Homo sapiens: one gene and its partners. The protein of the gene in region 3 purifies or fractionates together with the protein of the main gene of each other region. This does not show direct contact. Each region holds a gene or a part of one and is shown on either strand. Other genes may lie near its edges.

Region 1 (3,500 bases), on a different chromosome or scaffold from region 3:
CAAGAAGCTGCTCAGGCCCAGGCTGGGGGTGAGAGCCCCAGGGTCTGGTCCTGTCCCTATCCTCAGCCCCTGAGAAGGCAGCTCAGAACCAGGTTTGAACACCACTGATTTAAGCAATCCTTAGCCCTGGTGGTGGGGGTCTTAGCAAGAGGAGGCTCCCTCCAAGACAAACTGTAGTTTTTTCCTCTAAGACCCAACTATTCCCTGTTGGAGCTACTCACACCAAACCCATTTCCCCATGAGTCTAACAGTTCTCTCTTCTGGCTTTAGACCACATGGCTTTTAAACATGAGAAGAGTTCATCCTCACCACCTTGAGAAAAATGTAAAAGTGAACTACCTTAAGACACCTTCTCACCAATCACACAGGCAAAGAGAAAAGTCTTACTAAGCCAGAATGTGGGAAAGGGCGAGGGGAAATGGGCTCTCTTGTATGTTACCCTTGGGAGTATAAATTGGTATGGTTCAAAAAATTAGCCAGGAGTGGTGGTGGGCGCCTGTAGTCCCAGCTACTTGGGAGGCTGAGGCAGGAGAATGGCGTGAACCCGGGAGGCGGAGCTTGCAGTGGGCCGAGATTGCACCACTGCACTCCAGCCTGGGCAACACAGCAAGACTCCATCTCAAAAAAGTAAAATAAATTGGTATGGTTATAATCTTCAGAGGGCACTTTGGCAATATAGATTAAAAAAAAAATTTTTTTTTTTGAGACGGAGTCTCGCTCTGTCACCTGGGCTGGAGTGCAGTGGCATGATCTCGGCTCACTGCAAGCTCCGCCTCCCGGGTTCACGCCATTCTCCTGCCTCAGCCTCCCAAGTAGCTGGGACTACAGGTGCCCGCCACCACGCCCGGCTAATTTTTTCTATTTTAGTAGAGATGGGGTTTCACCTTGTTAGCCAGGATGGTCTCGATCTCCTGACCTCGTGATCCGCCCGCCTCGGCCTCCCAAAGTGCTGGGATTACAGGCGTGAGCCACCGCACCCGGCCTAGATTAAAATTTTACATGGCTACCATTTGACCCAAAATCTCCATTTCTAGGAATCTGCTCTACAGATAACACCCATTTGTAAGACTATGCATTGTAGCCTTTTTTTGTAGTATCAAGGAATGGGAAACAATCTGAATGTCCATCAGTGGGAAGCTGGTTAAATACATTATCCTACATCTACACAATAGAATACCCTGACACCGTGAAAAAAATAAAGGAAGCTTTAAAATAAGGTATGCAGGCCAAGCACAGTAGCTCACACCTGTAATACCAGCACTTCAGGAGGCCAAGGCCAGTGCATCATTTGAGGCCAGGAGTTTGAGACCAGCCTGGCCAACATGGCGAAACCCTGTCTCTACTAAAATACAAAAATTAGCCCGGCGTGGTGGTGGGTGCCTGTAATCCCAGCTACTTGGGAGGCTGAGGCATGAGAATCACTTGAACCTGGGAGGCAGAGTTTGCACTGAGCTGAGATTGTGCCACTGCACTCCAGCCTGGGCGACAGAGTGTGACTCTTGTCTCAAAATAAATAAATAAAATAGATATGCAACTACAACTATTAGAGAGGCCGTGAATGTGAGTAAATGTGTATAGTTCTATATAACATATGCCTGTACATGTGTTATAACATCTCCTAGACAGCATCTCTAGGAGAACATTTTTTCTTTTTTTTTTTTTTGAGACAGAGTCTTGTCTGTCACCCAGGCTGGAGTGCAGTGGTGCGATCTCAGCTCACTGCAACCTCTGCCTCCCGGGTTCATGTCATTCTACTGCCTCAGCCTCCCTAGTAGCTGGGACTACAGGCGCCCGCCAGCACACGTGGCTAATTTTTTGTATTTGTAGTAGAGACGGGGTTTCACTGTGTTAGCCAGGATGGTCTCAATCTCCTGACCTCGTGATCCACCCGCCTTGGCCTCCCAAAGTGCTAGGATTACAGGTGTGAGCCACCAGGCCCGACCCAAGGAGAATATAGTAAGAACCCATAATGGGCCTGGCACGGTGGCTCACACCTGTAACCCCAGCACTTTGGGACTCCGAAGTGGGTGGATCACGAGGTCAGAAGTTCAAGACCACTCCGGCCAACATAGTGAACCCCATCTCTACTAAAAATACAAAATATTAGCCGGGTGTGATGGTGTGCGCCTGTAATCCCAGCTACTTGGGAGGCTGAGGCAGAAGAATCGTATGAACCCAGGAGGCGGAGGTTGCAGTCAGCCAAGATTGCACCGTTGCACTCCAGCCCGGGTGACAGTACAAGACCCCGTCTCAAAAAAAAAAAGAACTCATAATGAAGGCTGCCTCTGAGGGGAAACTTAAGGGTGGGAAGGATGGAGAGTTACTTTTTTTTTTTTTCTATAACAAAATGCTGTAAATTGGAGACTTTTCACTGTACACACCTTTTAGAACTATTAGAATGTTCTCTCTGGTGTGTATTACCTTTATAAGAACAATTAAAACAAGAACCCCCTCCTTTGGTCCCCAGGCTTTGGCAGGTGGCATCTCTGCAAGCTCTCCAAGGAAGAAACCTCCACCCCACCAGTCTCCCCAGTCCTTTCTGCTTTTCCTCCATCCTTGCAACCGTGGTGGAAGCGGCCCAGCTCCAGGTATACAAAGGTGGCTGGAAGCCATGCTGAGCGCATCCGTAGCCCCTCTTTCCACCTAGGTGTGGCTGGGTCCCAGAAGAGTCTGGATCCCTCAGAAGGACCCCAAAGCCCCAGGGTACCCAGCCCCAGACAAGACCCCAGACACGCAGCCTGGCCTACCGCCCACAGCTCTTTCACTCCCTCAATGTGGCTTGGGCCAGGCAAGGCAAAACCCCTCTCCTCTTTTCAGAACAGGGGTTCAGTGATCCCTGCTTGCTTAGTCCCCCAGATGGACCTGACTTTACAAAACAGAGAGGAGCCTTCTTCTGGTAACCCATCACCTCTTCCAGGCAGCCCCCAGTGACACTGTCTGGCTCAGAGCACAGTGTATCTGACTTAGGGCCTGATCCTCTGCTGCTTCACACCATGGTCCAGACGGGCTGGGCTGGTTCCCTGGTGGAACTGGAAGTTCATGCTCTGCTCAAACTGGCCTCTGCACCATCCCTTCACTGGTATACTGGCCTCTGCACCATCCCTTCACTGGTATGCACCGGTACAGCGGTGCTGGCTGTCTATATCCAGTGTCCTTTCTGACTGGTCAGTCCCTATGCCGGATGGTTATTAATATTTGGAGTATCATTCCTGCCTCCACCTGAGCCTGACCTCTCCCGCCCTGCTCCTTCCTTCCTTTCAGCAAAGATTTATTAGGTACCTAAAACCTGGCGGCAGGCACGTGTCAGGCACTGGCGTGTCCCACTCACCCCAACATGTACCCCAGGCTCTTCAACCTCATGTTGGCCCTACTCCTCCATACTTCCCAAGTCCTGTCCATCTTTCAGGTTCCACTTTCCAAACCACCTTCTCCAGGAAACCAGTTGCAGCATAGCTCCAAGCTACACGGGTGCCTCCATCTATAACCAACCCCTCGCTGCA
Region 2 (4,160 bases), on a different chromosome or scaffold from region 3:
ACACGGAGACCCTGTTCGTATGCACATTTGGGTGCTTGAGCAGGGTTGCGCCCAAGATTCTGTGGTTCTACGGAGCCCTGAGTGGTGCCCTGGGCAGCTTTCCTCTGGGGTTGGTCAACTTTGATCACTGCACCTAACGAGAAAGGGACCATGAAATCTAATCAGCAAATACAGACAAGCAAGGGGCCATTTCCCACAATCATTTCCACGGAAACACCACGTCGGATACGTAAGTCTGATTGCAGGACAGGGACTGTGCTTCAGAGATGCAGCTTTCGCAGCTGGACGAATGACCCGGAATCTCCCCAAATGCCATTTGTAAGCACACCAAATGAGGTTTATTTCAGGGCTTTCTGAATTTATTTCAGTTGAATACACACACTCCTGTGTTTGATTTCCTTTATTATCAATACGACTTATTTCCAAATGACTGACATGCCAGTGGGAAAATTTTCCATTTCGACTCATTGGAATTGGACATCGTGAAACAGGCAAGTCGGTCTGTCTGTTTCCGGCGTTATGTGGGTTCCAGCAAGAGCACAAGTCCCAGGGCGCCTGAGGTCCATTCAGAAACCAATGTAAAAACGGTGAGCCAGGGTAAGAAAGAAGAGCACCGTTCCTATCTTCTAAATGCATTCCAGTTTCCACTATTCAAGGTGGCGAGAATGATCCATGGATGTGCCACATGAGCAAAATTTCACCTTCTCGTGCCGCCCAACAACTGACGAATGAAACACACCCCAAGAGAAAATAGGAAACCGAGTCCCCTGCAATAACCTCACACTCAAACCTACACGTCAGTAGGTCATATTCAGAAATACACAGTGAATGTCATCTACCATGAACACAAACACACAGACAGTCTCTCCAGAGGTTCGGAAGACTCACGACCCCAAAACTTGATGTTTCCCATGTGTGGGCTCATCCTGAGATGCAGCCATCACTATCCAGTTGTCCCTGTTGTAGAGACAGAAACTTGGACTCCTCATTACTTTATGTAGGATTGACGGTGTTCGTGTTTGTGTGTGTGTGTGTGTTTGCGTGCGCGCTTGTGGGTGTATTTGTGCGTGTGTGTGTGTGCGTTCACCCCTACGTGTGGGTCGGCACTTCCACTGAGATCACTGGCACACAAGCAGAGCCCTCTTGCTGTGTTTGTTCTTCCCTTTGGATCTCCTGGTCCTCCCTTGCAGAGAAGCGAGGGTGCCAGTGTTCACGGACTCCTGATCTGTCCGGGTCGTCGAAGAGAGGTTTAGCAGGGAGCTTTGCTGTTCAGGATGATGGTTTTTCATCCCACACTTGTATTTCGATTGATGAATCACAAGTACGTTGGGAGGCAGGGTACCTTCGACTTTTCTGACGTTGAACTCAGGCTTCGTTTTGTTTTGCTCTTGGGGGAATTTCCAGTGGTCTAAGGTGCTTTCCTGAGTGGCTCTTTCCACCAAGCGCTCGTCCAACTCGGGTGCCTGGAGGCAGGGGTGGTCTCTCTTGAGCTCTCCTTGCGTTGCTCGCCTGTCTGTGTCTTCAGCGCCGAGGGCTCTTGGTTCCCTGCCTCTTGACACACTCTCACTGTGTCTTTCCCATTCACTCTTCTGGATGTAAAAGAGGACATAGGCCTGTTGACTCAGGACAGAAGTGATGCTACAGGCAGTGACCTTGGCATCATCCATTTTATACCACTGGCCTTCTTGAGCTTTGACATAAGAGAAGTAATGTCCGTCGTGACAACTCCACCCAGCGTGGACCAGCACAGCATAGAGGACATAGACAAGAGGTCCTGTGTTCTGCTGAGACATGTATGGCTGCATGTCAAGGCACTCAGGATATTGCACATTCTTGGCAAGTTTGTTGCCTGTGACATCGGAGAATCTCTTCAAGACAAGGATGAGGACCTTGGCAGAAGTGTGTAAAGTTAACGTCTTGGAGGCCGGCGCCCTCTGGAGACAAAGACCGCAATGATAGGCATTCTCTCCATTGAGTTCTTCGGGCTTCACCAACTGTTCCAAAGCTTGCTTGACACTCTGAGCTGCCTGGATATCCAGGGCGATGTCCAGGTAAGGGTCAAAAGTGTCTGAAATCCCGTGGCAGTGGAGACACTTGATTTGAGATCTCCAGCAGCCTCCAAATATTTGGTGGATGAGGGTGGTGTCCTTAGAGTGATGATCTACCTGCTTGTGGCCGGGAAGGCATGCCTTTTTCATGGCATCCACAGTGAACATGAGAAATTCATGGGCATCTTCCTGCTTGCCTCTATGGAAGCCAGCAGCCAATGCCTGTGAGGGCTGGATGACATGACCAGGACTGTGGAGGGCCCATGTGATGTGAGCTTGCATAGTACAGAGCATGCAGCACTTGGGACGCTGACATGTTTGAGAGTGCTCCCGGGACAGCATGTAGTTGGCAAGGGGCGGTGTGTATGTCAGGCACTGCAGGGAAGCGTTCTCGTAGCAGGTATTTCCCATATTCTGGAGCCCAGCCCCCACCGCAGCAGGTCTCCTGCTACTCAGAGGAAGCTTCTTCCTGGGAGCAAGCTGTCTTGCCACAGGAGCCAAATCATCACAGAGGTCGACACGGGCCTCAGATGAGAGTGGTGACTTCTCAGGGAGAGAAGTCCGCTGGATTTCAGCAAAAGCTGCATCTGGCCGAGAAGATGTGAGTTTTGAAAAGTGGTTGAACTGCCACTCACCTCCCAAGTAGAGTGAGTCGTCCTCCATGTCGCCCGCAACAAGGATCACAAGGTTTTTCTGCTGGGACTGCAGGTTGCAGCAAGACGCTATCTCTTCCAAGAGAGTCTTCAAATGACGAGCTCTCTGGCCGCATCAGCCCTTATATAACTCACCCCCACCAACCGCGAACACCCCACCCACCCATCAGGTGTGCGATAAACCAATCAAATATCAGCACTCAATTAAGGAATGAGTCACAGGGTGTGTCCCCTTGCATCGCTGGGAATTCAACAGACACAGCCCACATCATGACTTCTAGAACACCTGAATCAAATTACTCCTCAGGGTGATAGGCACATATAATATGAGTGTAACCGGGTTGGGACAGTGGCCACACAGTTGCCTTATTTTAGGTAAAAGAATGTCAGGGAAGAAATCTTTACCTATGAAACCGTGTGTGTATCTCTCTGTGTGTGTGTGTGTGTGTGTGTGTTTGTGTGTGTGTGTGTGTGCTTGTGCTGGGATGAACTTCCAAGTATGTACTTTTGGCAGCTACCGTCATCCTCTCATCGACGGAAGGACAAGAAGTCTGAAGTGCGCTTTCTGACCTGAGAATAGTCAATGAAGTATAGTATTTAGCACAGCGTATTTTCTTCCTTAATAATAAAGGAGATATCCGTGGCATCAAACAGACCTTCCAGGGATAACCTTTCCACGTTCAGCCTATTGACTCTCTATCCGAGTGAAATTACTGGCCAGTGGAGAACAAGACAAGTCTTTGCATGAAATGCTCTTGTGGAAGCTAGGCTGCCAAATAATAAAGCATCAAATGGTAGAAACATGCACTGAAGTTTGAAGAGTTACTCAGTGCACAAAGTAGGCTGTGAAAGACTTTGGGGAAATCATGCAATCACCGAGAGACTAATTGATGACATTCCCCAAATTTATGTGTGCCAGAAAAGAGAGATGGTCCTGACATTGTATAGTGAGTGGTTTCGGACGTGCGGCGGCAGTTTAAGAAAACTTGAAACAAAAAACTTGAGAAATCCAAAGGTATCCCAACTATAAGCTTTTGTTTATTAAAGAACTGATGAAAATAAAAACAACGTATCTCACAGCATGGGTGATACTATTTCCATACTTACGTGATAATGGATCAACATTTCATAGAGATGAAATAAAAAGTTCTAATTTTGACAAAAGCAAACAAGGAAAATTATACCGTAGAAAAGCCCGGGTGACGGGAGTGAGGCCCTGTCTGAAGAAGAAAACATCGGAGACGTTTAAAAGCAGTGAGTGAAACAGAGGGTAGCATAACCTTTTTAATACTGGCTCTTGTTTCACTGGGAAATGGCAAAAATAAACCGTGTATCTCCTGGATTCTCGCATCGGTTGTTCATGCTCTGAGATGTTCCCTCCATTTCCAGTTATGCATTGTATGGTGGAATTGCAGTTAGCACCTTTGATGCAAAAATTGTAATGCTGACGAAAGTGGAC
Region 3 (3,500 bases):
TCCATCTCAAAAATAAATAAATAAATAAAGATAGGTTATCACATCTTGTTGATCTCTGTAGCTCTAGCATTTAGTAGAGTGACTCATACATATCAGGCATAAAATGTTTATTCAAGAATGAATTGTTGGCTGGGCATGGTGGCTCACGCTTGCAATCCCAGCACTTTGGAAGCCTGAGGTGGGTAGATCACCTGAGGCCAGGAGTTTAAGACCAGCCTGGCCAACATGGTGAAACCCTGTCTCTACTAAAAATACTAAAAATTACCCGGGTGTGGTGGTGCACACCTGTAATCCCAGCTACTCGAGAGGCTGAGGCAGGAGAATCGCTTGAACCTGGGAAGAGGAGGTCGCAGTGAGCCAAGATGGCGCCACTGCACTCCAGCCTAGGCGACAGAGCGAGAATCTGTCTTAAAAAAAACAAACAACAAAAAAAAGAAGAATGAATTCTTAATTAAACTAAATTTGGCCTGGGGATGCCTCTGTACTTGAGTCTTTATATACCAAGTTGCAACCTAACTTAGTACTTAAACTAACTGAAAGCCTAATTTAGAAGTATACTTTTGTATCAAAAAGCTGAGTCTCAGGAAAGCACAGCAGCTGAGCTTCAGTCAACCACAAGCAATCAACTGTTTAAACCATGTTCAAATAAGGCAAACTCAAGGCTGCAACCAACTGGGCTGTCTCTGTACCTCACTTCTATTTTCTGTACTTCATTTCCATTTTCTGTCCATAATACTGCCTGACCACATGGCAAACTGGAGTTTTACTGAACATGTTCTGGCTATGAGGGTTGCTGGATTCACTAGTTATTTTTTTGCTCAAATAAACTCTCCTAAGTTTAATTTGTCTAGTTCTTCTTTTAACAGAATGAAGGAATATGAAGAATACAAAGATACTACCACAGAACACTTTACCTTTGCTTCTTGATCTTTCAGGGAAAACTCCATTAATTCATCTGAAATCTCTTCTGCCTGGTCTTCTCCTAGGTTTGGATTTTTATCCAATTTTGGAACAGTAGTAATGGGACTGCCCAAATATTTCATTTCACTGTCCACCAAGTTTCCATTGTCCTGTCAAGTATATTGACAACATTAAAAACTATTCAAAATATATCAAAGTTCTAAATGTAAGAGCTAAAACTATAAAACTCTTAGAAGAAAAGATAAGGGAAAAAATTCATGACACTGGATTTGGATAATGCCACCAAAAGCACAGGTAACGAAAGAAAAAAACAGATAAATTGGTCTTCATCAAAATGGAAAACTTTTGTGCATCAAAGAACACCATTAAGGGAATGAAAAGGCAACCCACAAAATGGGAGAAAACATTTGCAAGTCTTATATTTGATGAGAGATTAATATCAGAATATATAAGGAACTCCTACAACTCAGTAACAACAACAATAACAATCAAAAGGGACATGAATAGACATTTCTCCAAAGAAGATATACAAATGGCCCATAAGCACATCAAAAGATGCTCAACAAAGTAATCATTATGGAAATGCATATGAAAATTGCAAGAGATACTTCTTTATACCCATTAGGATAGCCATTATAAGAAATAACAAGTGTTTGTGCATTGCTGGTGGGAATGTAAAAGGGTGCAGAGGCATTCTATGGATAATAGCATGGCAGTTCCTCAAAAAATTAAATGTAGAATTATCATGTAATCAAGCAATTCTACTTCTGAATATATACCCAAAAGAATTAAAAGCAGGGGCCGGGCGCAGTAGCTCACGCCTGTAATCCCAGTACTTCGGGAGGCCGAGGCCAGCAGATCACGAGGTCAGGAGTTCGAGAGCAGCCTGGCCAACATGTTGAAACCCCATCTCTACTAAAAATACAAAAATTAGCCGGGCATGGTAGCATGTGCCTGTAATCCCAGCTACTTGGGAGGCTGAGGCAGGAGAACTGCTTGAACCAGGGAGGTGGAAGTTGCAGTGAGCTGTGATCGTTCCACTGCACTCCAGCCTGGGTGACAGGGCAAAGACTCCATCTTGGAAAAAAAAAATACACAAAATAAAATAAAAGCAAGGACTCAAGCAGATTTTGTACACCTATGTTCATAACGGCATTACTCACAATGGCCAAAAGGTTGGAAACAACTCAAAATGTCCATCAACAGATGAATGGATAAACAAAATATGATATATACATACAAAAGAAATGAAATTCTAATACATGCTATGACATAGATGAACTTTGAAGACATTACGCTAAATGAAAATATAGGCTGGACGCAGTGGCTCACACCTGTAACCCCAGCACTATGGGAGGCTGAAGCAGATGGATCTCTTGAACCCAGGAGTTTGAGACCAGCCTGGGCAACATGGCAAAACCCTGATTCTACAAAATATACAAAAAAATTAGGTTGAGGTGGGCAGATCACATGAGGCCAGGAGTTTAAGACCAGCCTGGCCAACATGGTGAAACTCCGTCTCTACTAAAAATACAAAAAAATTCACCAGGCATGGTAGCACACGTCTGTAATCCCAGCTACTAGGGAGGTTAAGGCATAAGAATCACCTGAACCTGGGAGATAAAGGTTGCAGTGAGTCAAGATTGCACCACTGCACTCCAGCCTGGGTGACAGAGTGAGACTCTGTCTCAAAAAAAAAAAAAAAAAAAAAAAAAAAAAAGTAGCCAGGCATAGTGGCACACACTTGCAGTCCCACCTACTTGGTAGGCTGAGGTGGGAGAATAATCAGAGCCCGGGAGTTTGAGGCTGCAGTGAGTTATGATTGTGCCACTGTACTCCAGCAGAGGTGACAGAGTGAGACCTCACACACACACATGAAAGGACAAAATATAATATTATTCTACTCATATGAGGTATCTAGAATAGTCAAATTCACTGACACAGAAAATAGAGGTTATCATTGGCTGGGCAGAAACAGGGATGGGGAGTTATCACTTAAGGGTATACAGCTTCTGTTTTGAATAATGAAAAAATTCTGGAAATGAGTTCTGGTGATAGTCTCACATTATTAATATACTTACTGTCACTAGACTGCACACTCACAAATAGTTAAAATTGTAAATATTATGTACATTTTACTGCAATTAAAAAAAATCACATATAAGACTATCCAATAATTGAACATACTCCAGGTCTTCCCTCCATCCTAGAAACCAAAAACCTAAATAAAACATGATCAACTTAGTGGCCAGGCGCGGTGGCTCATGCCTGTAATCCCAGCACTTTGGGAGGCCGAGGCAGGTGGATCACGAGGTCAGGAGATCGAGAGCATCCTGGCCAACATGGTGAAACCCCGTCTCTACTAAAATACAAAAAATTAGCTGGGTGTGGTGGTGCACGCCTATAGTCCCAGCTACTGGGGAGGCTGAGGCAGTGGAATTGCTTGAACCCAGGAGGCAGAGGTTGCAGTGAGCTGAGATCGCACCACTGCACTCCAGCCTGGTGACAGAGCAAGACTCTGTCTCAAAAAAAAAAAAAAAAAAAAAAAAAAAAAAAACCATGATCAACTTTATCTTCAT
Region 4 (3,500 bases), on a different chromosome or scaffold from region 3:
AAAAATTAAAAAATAAAATTAGCTAGGCATGGTGGCATGCGCCTATAGTCCTAGGTACTTAGGAGTCTGAGGTGAGAGGATCGCTTGGGCCGAGGAGGTTGAGGCCATAGTGAGCTGTGATCGTGCCATACTGCACTCCAGCCTGGGACACAGAGTGAGACCCTCCCTGGTTCTAAAAAAATAGAGGGCTCTCATGTGGGCAGCTGCATGGGTGGTTCATTGAATAGCTGGACACTGGGTAGGTGTCTTTGGCCTAATGACTCATGGGCCATTAGGTGAGTGATTGGGGGATGGGGAGATGTTGGGGTGATTAATGGGTGGATACCAGATAGGTGGGTGACAGACCCCGGGAGGGTGGAGAGTGAAGAGGGCAGGCCTCGATCGGCGTTGACCGCAGAGGGAAGGATCTTAGCAGGAGGGGTGGTGCTCCCTGGGCTATTGTTTGACCGGATATATTGGGTAGGTCACTGGTTGTGTGGATGAATGGATGCTGGGGTGGTGGGTCCCAGCTGGTGCCCGGAGTGAAGGGGACATAGCAGCTGCCTGGCAAGTGCTGGGCCCTGTGAGAGGCACAGAGGCAACCCCTCACCATCCCTCCCGCAGAGCGGCAACAAGATATCCCTGCGGACCACAGCCCTGGAGAACACCTCCATCAAGGTGGGCCCCGCCCGGAAGAATGTGGCCAAGGGCCGCATGGCACGCAGGAGCAAGAGGAGCCGTCGGCGGGAGACCCAGGATCGGTGCGCGGCAGTGACCACCAGGGAGCGGTACACAGGGGGCGGGGCCACGGGGACTGGGGTTCTTTTTTTCTTTTCTTTTTCCTTTTTTTTTTTTTTTTTTTTTTGAGACAGAGTCTTGCTCTGTTGCCCAGGCTGGAGTGCAGTGGCTCAATCTCGGCTCACTGCAACCTCCACCTCCCGGGTTCAAGCGACTGTCCTGCCTCAGCCCCCTAAGTAACTGGGACTACGGCGTGCACCATCATGCCCAGCTAATTTTTATATTTTCAGTAGAGACAGGGTTTCGCCATGTTGGCCAGGCTGGTCTCGAACTCCTGACCTTAAATGATCCATCTGCCTCGGCCTCTGAAAGTGCTGGGATTACAGGTGTGAGCCACCATGCCTGGCCAGGAGCAGGGGTTCTGAAGCCTCCGGTTTTCTTACCCCAGGCGGAAGTCACTTTTCAAGAAGATCTCCAAGCAGACCTCCGTGCTGCACACCAGCCGCAGCTTCTCCTCCGGACTCCACCACTCACTGTCATCCAGTGAGAGCCTCCCCGGCTCGCCCACCCACAGCCTCTCCCCCAGCCCCACCACTCCCTGCCGAAGCCCAGCCCCTGATGTCCCAGCAGGTGGGTGCACCCCGACCCCCCACCACCCCGGCTACCCTGGGAGCAAGGGCTGGTGGGCCCCAGGAGGGAGGAAGGAGTTCAGGGGATGGAATGACACGATGTAGGGAAAAAGATGACCGGGATCCTGGTGTCTAGCAGGGAACCTGGGAGTACTTAGAGACGAATGCAGGTGCCAGGGAAGGATGCACCCAGCAGAGGAAACATCATGGACAAATGGGGCTAGACAGGAGGGTGGGAAAACTGAGAAGAGGCCAGGCACGGAGGCTCACGCCTGTAATCCCAACACTTTGGGAGCCCGAGGCAGGAGGATCACTGAGCCCAGGAGTTTGAGACCAGCCTGGGCAACACAGGGAGACCCCATCTGTACAAAACATAAAAAAATTAGGTGGGTGTGAGGCCGGGCATGGAGGCTCACACCTGTAATCCCAGCACTTTGGGAGGCCGAGGCAGGTGGATCACCTGAGGTCGGGAGTTCAAGACCAGCCTGGCCAACATGGAGAAACCCCGTCTGTACTAAAAATACAAAATCAGCCAGGTGTGGTGGCACATGCCTGTAGTCCCAGCTACTAGGGAGGCTGAGGCAGGAGAATCGCTTGAACCCAGGAGGTGGAGGTTGCGGTGAGCCGAGATTGAGCCATTGCACTCCAGCCTGGGCAACAAGAGCAAAACTCCATCTCAAAAAAAAAAATTAGGTGGTTGTGGTGGTGCACACATGTGGTCCCAGCTACTCTGGAGGCTGAGATGGGAGGCTCACTTGAGCCCAGGAGGTCAAGGCTGCAGTGAGCCATGATTGCACCACTGCACTCCAGCCTAGGCAACAGAGTGAGACCCCATCTCAAAAAACAAAAGGGAAAAAAAAAAAGAAAACAGAAGTGATACAGAGAAGGCTTTCTGGAGGAGGGGGAGTAGGAGCTGGGGCTTTGATGGGTGAGTGGGAGTTCACCAGAGCTAGGCCAAGGAAACAACCCTGAGCAGGAGGCAGAAAAGTCTGGCATGAACCAGGCATGATGGCTCATGCCTGTAATCCCAGCACTTTGGGAGGCCAAAGCAGGCGGATCACTTGAGGTCAGGAGTTTGAGACCAGCCTGGCCAACATGGTGAAACCCCAACTCTACTAAAAATACAAAAATTAGCCAGATGTGGTGGCACATGCCTGTAGTCCCAGTTACTTAGGGGGCCGAGGCACGAGAATCATTTCAACCTGGGAGGTGAAGGTTGCAGTGAGCCAAGATCATGCCACTGCACTCCAGCCTGGGTGACAGAGCGAGACTCTATTGAAAAAAAAAAAATTAGCCAGCCATGGTGACGTGCACCTGTTGTCCCAGCTACTCAGGAGGCTGAGTTGTGAGGATCACTTCAGCCCAGGAGGTTGAGGCTATGATTGAGCCAGTGCACTACAGTCTGGGCAACAGAGCAAGACCCTGTCTCAAAAACAAAAACAACCAGGCATGATGGGTGGCCACATGGAAGGATGTGGGCTTTAGCAGTTTTTGTCAGTCCCACAGCTCCACTTCTGGGCTGGGGACATTGAGGCCAGCAGCCCTGACCTACGCTTATCACCCACAGATACCACTGCATCCCCACCCAGCGCATCCCCGAGCTCCAGCAGCCCCGCCTCCCCAGCTGCTGCTGGCCACACCCGCCCCAGCTCCCTGCACGGCCTGGCTGCCAAGCTTGGGCCACCCCGCCCCAAGACTGGCCGCCGCAAGTCCACCAGCAGCATCCCGCCCTCCCCGCTGGCCTGCCCGCCCATCTCCGCGCCCCCACCCCGCTCGCCCTCGCCCCTGCCCGGGCACCCGCCCGCACCTGCCCGATCCCCGCGGCTGCGCCGGGGCCAGTCAGCTGACAAGCTGGGCACAGGGGAGCGGCTGGATGGGGAGGCGGGGCGGCGCACTCGTGGGCCAGAGGCCGAGCTCGTGGTCATGCGGCGGCTGCACCTGTCCGAGCGCCGAGACTCCTTCAAGAAGCAGGAGGCCGTGCAGGAGGTTAGCTTCGATGAGCCGCAGGAGGAGGCCACTGGGCTGCCCACCTCAGTGCCACAGATCGCCGTGGAGGGCGAGGAAGCCGTGCCAGTAGCTCTCGGGCCCACCGGAAGAGACTGATCCCCTGCCAGGTCTCTCCCTGGCATCAAAGTTACGCGTTTTCTTGTGCAA
Region 5 (3,500 bases), on a different chromosome or scaffold from region 3:
ATTAACTCCTGATATTCCATTTATTCATTTTCTGTTATAAATGAGGTTGTTAAAAGTATTTGTGCACAAAGCTTTTTTTTTTTTTTTTCTTTTTGCCTGGCTACCTCTGTCTCCTCCAAAGCTTTTTTTTTTTAATTTAGGATTTTTATTAAGCTAAATTTCTAGTAAAGTCCTAAGACATGGGAATGAATTTCTTTCTTTTACCTTTTTAAATTTGAAAATTTTTATCTTTAGAGACAGTGTTGTTTTGTTGTTCAGGCTGGAGTGCAGTTGGTGTGATCATAGCTCATGGGAGACTTGAACTCCTGGGCGCAAGGGATCCTCCAACCTTGAGTAGCTGGAACTCCAGTAAGCTTCCTGAGTAGCTGGAACTGCAGGCATGTGCCACCACACCTGGCTAATTAAAAAAAATTTTTTGTAGAGATGGGGTCTTGCTACGTTGTTCAGGCTGGTTTCAAACTTCTGGCTTCAAGTAATCCTCCTGCTTTGGCTTCCCAAAGTGTTGGGATTACAGGCTTTGGCCACTGTGCCTGGCCTTTCTTTTACCTTTTGTTTTGTTTTTTTTTTTTGAGACAAAGTCTCGCTCTTGTCCCCCAGGCTGGAGTGCAATGGCATGATCTCGGCTCACTGCAACCTCCGCCTCCTGGGTTCAAGCGATTCTCCTGCCTCAGCCTCCCAAGTAGCTGGGATTACAGGCGCCTGCCACCACGCCTGGCTAATGTTTGTATTTTTAGTAGAGATGGGGTTTCACCATGTTGGCCTGGCTGGTCTTGAACTCTTGACCTCAGGTGATCTGCCCTCCTCGGCCTCCCAAAGTGCTGGGATTACAAGTGTGAGCCACTGCGCCCGGCCTCTTCTACCTTTTGATTGGAGACTGTCATACATTCAGTAAAGGATCTTAAGTGTACTGCTCAATAAATTTTAGGTATGTATCTGCCATGCACCACCTTGCAGGTCCAGTCAAGATACAGGATGTTTACATTACTCAGAAGGCTCCTCATGTCTCTTCTTATTCCTCATGTGTCTTCTTATTCATCATGTGTCTTCTTAGCAATACCCACCCCATTTCCCCTGGCAACGTAATCACTTTTTTGACTTCTGTCACCATCAATCTATCAATTAGCTTTACCTGTTCATGAACTGGAATGAACGTTTTAAAGGCTCTTGATGCACAAGCAGTGGGCATCTCTTTGGGTGATGTGACTTCTTGACTGCTCCCTGCCAGGGCTACAGCACAGTTATCTCTGTAACCCTGGCCTTAGCTCCTTCGGGGCAGGAGACAGCTGCTCACTGCCCAGGCCTGTGCAGGCATAAACAGACTTGGGGATGGCCAGGCCCAGGGTGGGAGGCATATCTTGGGAAGTGGATTTCAACAGGTGACTTGTTTGACCAGGCCCAGCCGCAGCCCCAGCCCCAGCCCCAGCCCCAAGCCCAGTCTCAGCCACCGTCATCCAACAAGCGTCCCAGCAATAGCACGCCGCCCCCCACGCAGCTCAGCAAAATCAAGTACTCAGGGGGGCCCCAGATTGTCAAGAAGGAGCGACGGCAAAGCTCCTCCCGCTTCAACCTCAGCAAGAATCGGGAGCTGCAGAAGCTTCCTGCCCTGAAAGGTACTTGGCAATTGGTCACAGGGGCTGTTTTACCAGTTCTAGTGGGCATCGGGAGTTGGTGGAATGGAAGTTTTGGGGTATTTTGCGGGGAAGGGAGTTCCAGAGAATGCGGGAAGGGGGTGCCAGGGAGCAGGATGGTGGCAGGGTGGGGTAAGGGAAAGCCCTTGAAGGCAAGCAGGGCATCGCAGTGAAGGACTACAGAGGAGAACCTGACTGCTGGGGCCCCCACAGATTCGCCAACCCAGGAGCGGGAGGAGCTGTTTATCCAGAAGCTACGCCAGTGCTGTGTCCTCTTTGACTTCGTGTCAGACCCACTCAGTGACCTCAAATTCAAGGAGGTGAAGCGGGCAGGACTCAACGAGATGGTGGAGTACATCACCCATAGCCGTGATGTTGTCACTGAGGCCATTTACCCTGAGGCTGTCACCATGGTGGGCACAGGGAAAGGACACAGGGGGGACTGGTGAGGGGCTCTGGAGAAGCCCAGGTGGAGCTCTAACTGGCCCTACCCCTCAGTTTTCAGTGAACCTCTTCCGGACGCTGCCACCTTCATCGAATCCCACAGGGGCTGAGTTTGACCCAGAGGAAGATGAGCCCACCCTGGAAGCTGCTTGGCCACATCTCCAGGTACCAGGGCAAGGGGGCAGATTGGCCGTGGCTGCAGGGAGTGGGGCACTTGGAGGCCTGCAAGTCCTTGGGAACATCCCCTCAGTGGCGTGCCTTTTCCCCTATAGCTCGTGTATGAGTTCTTCTTACGTTTCCTTGAGTCTCCTGATTTCCAGCCAAACATAGCCAAGAAGTACATCGACCAGAAGTTTGTACTTGCTGTGAGTCCCCGAGTTCCTGTCCTTGCCCTCTCTTTCCATTCCATGCCCCCTTCATCTGTGTCCCAGTGGCTCTTTCCCCTTAAGCTGAATATATTGGGTTTCATCCATGTCTGGTACGAGGAGGCTATAAAGGGTAAAAAACAAAACAAAACAAAACCCTACTCTGGCCTTAAGAAACTAACAACATAATGGTAGGAAACAAAAAAGCAACAGAGTACCTCTCTCAGGTCAATAGTGAGGCATCACTTTGGAAGTCTCAGTACAAATACAATAGAATCAGCAATATAATAGAATCACTGCTTTCTAAGACTTGCTGGCCCCCACTCCAGGGGACCTCTGCATTTCCCCTGGCGGGACCTATGTCACCCTGGCCACTGCCTTCCCTGGCTGCTGCCTCACTGGCTGCTTTCCCTCCCTTGTACCCCCAGCTCCTAGACCTATTTGACAGTGAGGATCCTCGAGAGCGGGACTTCCTCAAGACCATTTTGCATCGCATCTATGGCAAGTTTTTGGGGCTCCGGGCTTATATCCGTAGGCAGATCAACCACATCTTCTACAGGTGAGGCCAGGAGCCCAGGCTTAGGAGCAAAACCTTCTGCTACTGAGGTGGGGTGGGAGCAGGGAGGTGGGGGGACTGTACAGAATGCTGGAGGGACATCAGGGGTTGTCAAGAGAGCCATTTTTCTTCCCTCAGGTTCATCTACGAGACGGAGCATCACAACGGGATTGCTGAGCTCCTGGAGATCCTGGGCAGGTGAGAGGCCGGGTGGGGGCACAGATGCCTGAAAAAGGTTGGCAGGATTGGTGTACTGAACTTGGATCTGACCCTCTGGTCCTAACAAATGTCCCTTAATTCCTAGCATCATCAATGGCTTTGCCCTGCCCCTTAAAGAAGAGCACAAGATGTTCCTCATCCGTGTCCTACTTCCCCTTCACAAGGTCAAGTCCCTGAGTGTCTACCACCCTCAGGTGAGCTGCCTTCCTCCTTATAATGTCCAACTCAGGCAGCAGAGAAAAGAGCCGGCAGGAAAGTGTTCCAGCTGGGATAGGGGAAGCATAGGGA
Region 6 (3,500 bases), on a different chromosome or scaffold from region 3:
AGGAGACTACAGGCACTTGACAACTAGGTTGGATCCTGGAACAGAAAAAAGATAGTAAAGAAAACAATAGGCTGGGTATGACGGCTCACGCCTGTAATCTCAGCACTTTGGGAGGCCGAGGTGAGCAGATCACTTGAGATCAGGAGTTCAAGGCCAGCCTGGCCAACATGGTGAAACCCCATCTCTACTAAAAATACAAAAATTAGCTGGGCGTGGTGGCGGGCACCTGTAATCCCAGCCACTCGGGAGGCCAAGGCAAGCGAATCACTTGAACCCGGGAGGTGGAGGTTGCAGTAAGCTGAGATGTGACACTGCACTCCAGTCTGGGCGACAGAGCAAAACCCCATCTCAAAAAAAAAAAAAGAACAGACACTGGAATGAGACCACCAGGGTCAAATCCTGGTTCTATCACTTAGTAGCTGTGTGACCATGACAAGTTGCTTAACCTCTTTGTGCCTCAGTTTCCCCACTGGTAAAATGGAAACAATGATAAGGGTACCTAAATGTGATAATATAGAGATTATCTTTTTAAAAAGTCCATGTATTTTAGATACATAGTCAAGTATTTGCAGATAAAATAACAAGGTATCTGGGATTTACTTTAAGGTAATTACAGGGGAAGAATTAACAGACAGATGAATAACAAGGAAAAGTTCATCGTTAACCTAAGAGAATGAAAATGGAAGGTAAAGATGTAATACATTCAAAAGCAGTACAAAAGTAGAAGGGAAATGAGGGTGACTTAGACTATAACGCATAATAGAATGAGATCTGGACTAGGAATCAAGATCAAATAAGCCCAGCCCTACAAGCTGCATTCTCTTTATTTGCAACTACTTTATATTTTATTACTATGTTTTCCACTACCCAATAAAAAGATCTATATATTCACCCAAAGAATAAAAGTAGTAACTATCTCAAAGGGGTGTTGTGGGGATTAAATAACTTTTGATAAGTCAGGTGCTTAGAGTATTAATTGTTACATAGTTAACACTACACAAGTGTCAGTTGTTAGCATCATCCTTCACTGCTATCTCCCACCAATTAGTACTCACACAGACACTGTGGACTCTGAATAAATATTAGAAAATTCGTTGAATGTTTAATAAATTCTCATCCCCACACATAGGTCATAATTATATTCTACAATACTGTATTTCTAGAAGGAATTTCCTTTTCTTTCGGTCAACAAAAAAACAAATGTACCCTACTGTTTTCCACTGGTAAACTAAATTGTATTATCTCTGGTATACATAACCCTACAATATCATCAAAGCACATAGAAGGATGGTTTTATCCATGTCAGCTTCCTTAGGACAATTACTTTAACCAGACACCCGGAACTGCCATACCTGGGAGGTTTGTAGTAAGAAAGCCCCTCTAACAATCGCCGCCAATGTTTATTCAGTTCTGCCTCAATCTGACTCTGGAAAAGAACAAGGTAATTATACAAATGCAGTATTTTTTTTTTTTTTTGAGACAGAGTCTCACTCTATCACCCAGGCTGGAGTGCAGTGGCACCAACTTGGCTGACTGCAACCTCCGCCTCCCAGGTTCAAGTGATTCTCGAGCCTCAGCCTCCCGAGTAGCTGGAATTACAGGTGCCAGCCACCACACCCAGCTAATTATTGTATTTTTAGTAGAGATGGAGTTTCACCATGTTGGCTAGGCTGATCTCGAACTCCCCACCTCAAGTGATCTGCCTGCCTTGGCCTCCCAAAGTGCTGGGATTACAGGCGTGAGCCAAGGCACCCGACCGCAAATGCAGTTTTTTGTGCTTTCTTTTTTTTTTTTTTTTTTGAGACGGAGTCTCACTCTGTTACCCAGGATGGAGTGCAGTGGCGCAATCTTGGCTCACTGCAACCTCCGCCTCCTGGGTTCAAGCAATTCTCCTACCTCAGCCTCCTGAGCAGATGGGACTACAGGCGCACGCCACCATGCCAGTCAGTTTTTTTTGTATTTTTAGTAGAGATGGGGTTTCACCATATTGTCCAAGCTGGTCTTGAACTCCTGAACTCGTGATCTGCCCATGTCAGCAAAGTGCAGGGATTACAGGTGTGAGCCACTGCGCCCGGCCCAAATGCAGTTTTATTAATAATCAGACTCGGCCAGGCATGGTGGCTCAGGCCTGTAATCCTAGCACTTTGGGAGGCCGAAGCGGGCGGATCCCCTAGGGTTGGGAGTTGGAGACCAGCCTGACCAACATGGAGAAACCCTGTCTCTACTAAAAAATACAAAATTAGCTGGGCGTGGTGGTGTATGCCTGTAATCCCAGCTACTCGGGAGGCTGAGGCAGGAGAATCACTTGAACCTGGGAGGCAGAGGTTGTGGTGAGCCGAGATTGCACCAATGCACTCTAGCCAGGACAACAAGCACGAAACTCCGTCTCAAAAAAAAAAAAAAAAAATCAGATTCCAGAATCACACTAAGTATTACACATTCCTTTGAGTGTTTTTAATATGCATTTTTCCCCAGAGTTGAAATCATTTTGAATACAGAATTCTGTAACCTTCTTTTCTTTGCTTAACATTATAACATAATGACTTAACCTTATTATGAAAGTCTTGATAAACATACTTTCAAGTTGCTGCATAATACTTGTATCAAGTTGGTAGATCATAATTCATTTACCATTCCTCTAATGTTTGATATACTTAAGCTGACTGTAATTATTTAATAATATAAATGATGTTGTGGTGAAGTTTTCTTTGTTGTTTTTTGAGACAGGGTCCTGTTCTGTCACCCAGGCTGGAGTGCAGTGATGCAATCATGGCTCACTGCAGGCTTGATATCCTGAGCTTAAGCGATCTTTCCACCACAGCCTCCTGAGTAGCTGGAACTACTAATACAAGCATATGCCACCAAGCCTGACTTTTTTTTTTTTTTTTTTTTGAGATGGAGTCTCGCTTTGTCACCCAGGCTGGAGTACAGTTGCGCGATCTCGACTCACTGCAACCTCCACTTCCGGGTTCAAGCGAATCTCCTGCCTCAGCCTCCCGAGTAGCTGGGATTACAGGCATGCACCACCACACCGGGCTAATTTTGTATTTTTAGTAGAGACGGGGTTTCTCCATGTTGAGGCTGGTCACGAACTCCTGACCTCAGGTGATCCGCCCGCCTCGGCCTCCCAAAGTGCTGGGATTACAGGCGTGAGCCACCATGCCTGGCCAAGAATCTTTCTTAGGTTGAGGTAGAAGAATGGTATTTGCACCCCTACTCTCAGCAGCCAAGCAATGAACACAGGTATCTTTTCATAAAAGGAATCAATGAAATACAAAGGTAGATTTAAAAGACTTCAGCAGCTAGGCTAGGTAGTCTCATTTCAGCAAAGAAGTAGGGAATGCGTAATGTTTATAAAGCTTTTTGCTTTTTTGAGCTGGGGTCTCGATGTGTCTCCCAGGCTAGAGTTCACTGCAGCCTCAACCTCCCAGGATCAAGCAATCCTCCCACCTTGGACTCCTAAGTAGCTGGGACTACAGACATGCACCACCATGCCTGGC
Region 7 (2,617 bases), on a different chromosome or scaffold from region 3:
AACGTATAAGCCCTCCGAACCATGTAGGAATCATGGTCTAAACAGACCTTTTTAGCTTGTTAATTGGAATATTTTGTGGCATCCATTCTTATGCTAGTCCAAGAACTCTGGAATCTGTAGAACTGTTGAACCAAATAAAAGGAAGAAACTCTACTGTCAGCACTCAATTAGCTGCGCCGCTGGAGAGGAACAGTGACGTGGTAGATTAAAAAAAAATTGGTTCGGTTTGACTTTGGAATGCACTGATTTTTTTTTCAGTAGATTAACTTTTCTAATTATATTTTGCACAGCCTAATATTAACAGGCATTTGTATTCCCTGGGCACACAACATCTGACATTGAGAGCTGGGAGATGCAGCCCAAAAATGTGCTGGTCTCAGAGAATAACAATGTTATGAAAAATCCATGCGTGGATAATGAAGGGGAAGCTAATTATGAAGTGCTCTGCAAATATTAAATCATAAGCAGAGAAGGCAAAATAGTAATTCTCTATCGACATGTGGACAGAGTAAAAAAGTTTATTAACATTCTGAGAAGGACAGAAATTTTCAAGAATCATCATTAGTGTTAACAAAGCTTGATGAAAAAATTCGGATGCAAGGAGGGTCAATGAGTTATTGGGTGGTCTTTCAAATAAGCAAACCTCAAGCAATAATACCAAAGTGTTTTAAAAGAGCGTTTAAAATGAATTTTATTCTTTGAATTTTACAGGTAGTCTTTAGAGGCTTCAAACAAGAACTCTGTTGCAAAACTCTAATAAATAGCTTGCCCCAAGTCCCCAAACAAAATGTAAAACAAAATGAGAACTAAACTCAGAAGGATAAGCAAGACTTCAGAATGCTTGGATGTTAGCAATATTTCTCATTTACAAAGAGATATCAGGCAATGTACAATCTCCTTCATACAAGTCAAAGAGAGAAAGAGACAGACAATTGAAATCTTCACAAAGCACTCCGAAATCTTCCTATTTCCATGATAGAAATGTCACCAGAAAAAAAAAATTCCATGGAGAAATCACAATCAAGAATGAAACTGTAGCATAAAAATCTGGTAGTGAATGTAGCAGGGAGAAGAGAGGAAAATCCATCCTGTTTCTTTCAGGGATGGAGAGAGGAAGGAATTGAGATTACTTGGGTGAGGGAACTTCCAATCAGATGCCGCTAGAGTGCTGAATGTTCCCTTAGACCAGAGTTGCCACTGAAAGGGCAGAGGGGTCGGTTTAGTGACAGTTATGAAGGCAACAAACAAAGGGGTCTCCTCAGGTCAGTCAACACTGGCCAGCCCCATGTCTCTGTGCTCTACAGCAGCCTTGGAAGAGTGACCCAGGGGCCCAAAGCAGCCTGCATCACAAGACAGCAAAAATAGCACATCAATAATTTCTGCAGCGGAATCCTTTGGATGGCCATGAAAGGATGCAGAAAATGCCGTGCTGAAATTTCACACTGGGACATGCAGGTTTCAAAAGCCCATTCTAGTATCACAGTCATTATTCCTAACAAGCAATGATTAAAATTCACAATTAAACATTCACTGTTAGCTTCTCCTAGTTACAAATACTGGTGAAGTCTTGCTCTGGAGAGAAAGATTAATTTAGAGATATGGTCATTTTCAGCAAGCTAAAAAAACCAGTTGTGCCACATTTTTATCTTTAAAAATCTTTAAAACGTATACTTTTGACCAAAATGCATTCAAAATGCAGACAGATAAGGTTTTAGTTTGGGGGAATTCTGAAATCAATTAATGTTTGGAGCCAGGAAGCTGTAAGAGAGATTGATTCCAATTTAGTGGGGCTCAATTAAGCCAAACAAAAAAGAGTCTTGCAGCACAAGTGGGACCATCTTCCTGGGGAAAGGGAGAAGCAGGAAATGACCTCACAATGCAGGACTGAGAAGGGGTGTGGCCTGCAGGCACTGTCAGAGCTGCTCTGGTTTACAGACTTGCTGTTAAATATTTAACTCCGGTCCTGCTGATCTCTGGAGGACAGGTACAGACAGCACTAGCTCATGCACGAGTCATTCAAGGGAGGTAGGCATTTTCTCAAAGCAACTCCCTCTCCAGGCATTTTAGGGAAGAAGGTAAGGAAATATCCCTCTCTACTCCCCAAACAAGTTATAAAAACATTCTTTTTCTAGGAATAATGATATTTGTTAGAATAACAAGGGAAAGCTTGGGTTACCTGAAGTTGATAAGAAAGCTGATGGGAATAGAGGCGGATGGGCCAGGGGGCGCCCTGGTCCAAGGCCCAGTTTCTTCTTAAATACATAACAGATAAAGATATTGTGCAAAAAAATAAAGACATTCACATTTTAGCAGTTAAACTTTTATTTTACTGTTTAAAATTTTTATTTACTTTTTTTGTTTTTCTTTTCTACAAAAGGCAGGTGATGATTGTTGATCTGCAACTATTGTGTTGTGCACTCCCCGAAAGGGGGCAGAGTAGGAAGCCAGGGAAGGTGCTCTGAGGATGCTTTCTATGGAGGGAATAAGGGCTGCAGGACACTCACTGGAGGGAGTGTCTGGGCCCTTCTCCTGTCCTCCTCAGCCTTCCCTAGCTCATGTCTATGGTGTTGAAGACCCATTCTGTGAACTTCTTCAGCTTGTCCGAGGCGTTCTGGGA

The links.
Region 1: the proteins of CDC25C (region 3) and KIF1C purify together in Homo sapiens (affinity purification with mass spectrometry, with the first as the bait; one large-scale study listed by BioGRID). This does not show direct contact.
Region 2: the proteins of CDC25C (region 3) and USP17L2 purify together in Homo sapiens (affinity purification with western blotting; one study listed by BioGRID). This does not show direct contact.
Region 4: the proteins of CDC25C (region 3) and MAST3 purify together in Homo sapiens (affinity purification with mass spectrometry, with the first as the bait; one large-scale study listed by BioGRID). This does not show direct contact.
Region 5: the proteins of CDC25C (region 3) and PPP2R5D purify together in Homo sapiens (co-immunoprecipitation; 2 studies listed by IntAct). This does not show direct contact.
Region 6: the proteins of CDC25C (region 3) and NUP188 purify together in Homo sapiens (affinity purification with mass spectrometry, with the first as the bait; one large-scale study listed by BioGRID). This does not show direct contact.
Region 7: the proteins of CDC25C (region 3) and SIPA1L1 purify together in Homo sapiens (affinity purification with mass spectrometry, with the first as the bait; one large-scale study listed by BioGRID). This does not show direct contact.

Annotation. Positions count from the first base shown.
Region 1 is NC_000017.11:5,007,950-5,011,449, reverse strand, and holds part of KIF1C (kinesin-like protein KIF1C), read right to left. Parts: intron 1-3,500. UniProt on the Homo sapiens protein: Motor required for the retrograde transport of Golgi vesicles to the endoplasmic reticulum. Has a microtubule plus end-directed motility.
Region 2 is NC_000008.11:12,136,050-12,140,209, forward strand, and holds USP17L2 (ubiquitin carboxyl-terminal hydrolase 17), read right to left. Parts: upstream 2,801-4,160; 5' UTR 2,712-2,800; coding exon 1,119-2,711; 3' UTR 386-1,118; downstream 1-385. UniProt on the Homo sapiens protein: Deubiquitinating enzyme that removes conjugated ubiquitin from specific proteins to regulate different cellular processes.
Region 3 is NC_000005.10:138,318,305-138,321,804, forward strand, and holds part of CDC25C (M-phase inducer phosphatase 3), read right to left. Parts: intron 1,071-3,500; coding exon 915-1,070; intron 1-914. UniProt on the Homo sapiens protein: Functions as a dosage-dependent inducer in mitotic control. Tyrosine protein phosphatase required for progression of the cell cycle. When phosphorylated, highly effective in activating G2 cells into prophase.
Region 4 is NC_000019.10:18,146,278-18,149,777, forward strand, and holds part of MAST3 (microtubule-associated serine/threonine-protein kinase 3), read left to right. Parts: intron 1-603; coding exon 604-767; intron 768-1,165; coding exon 1,166-1,347; intron 1,348-2,913; coding exon 2,914-3,449; 3' UTR 3,450-3,500.
Region 5 is NC_000006.12:43,005,070-43,008,569, forward strand, and holds part of PPP2R5D (serine/threonine-protein phosphatase 2A 56 kDa regulatory subunit delta isoform), read left to right. Parts: intron 1-1,376; exon of another isoform or gene 1,377-1,393; coding exon 1,394-1,610; intron 1,611-1,841; coding exon 1,842-2,041; intron 2,042-2,126; coding exon 2,127-2,237; intron 2,238-2,344; coding exon 2,345-2,437; intron 2,438-2,865; coding exon 2,866-2,996; intron 2,997-3,131; coding exon 3,132-3,191; intron 3,192-3,297; coding exon 3,298-3,406; intron 3,407-3,500. UniProt on the Homo sapiens protein: The B regulatory subunit might modulate substrate selectivity and catalytic activity, and might also direct the localization of the catalytic enzyme to a particular subcellular compartment.
Region 6 is NC_000009.12:128,950,699-128,954,198, reverse strand, and holds part of NUP188 (nucleoporin NUP188), read right to left. Parts: intron 1,427-3,500; coding exon 1,353-1,426; intron 1-1,352. UniProt on the Homo sapiens protein: Component of the nuclear pore complex (NPC), a complex required for the trafficking across the nuclear envelope. Required for proper protein transport into the nucleus.
Region 7 is NC_000014.9:71,739,093-71,741,709, reverse strand, and holds the end of SIPA1L1 (signal-induced proliferation-associated 1-like protein 1), read right to left. Parts: coding exon 2,549-2,617; 3' UTR 501-2,548; downstream 1-500.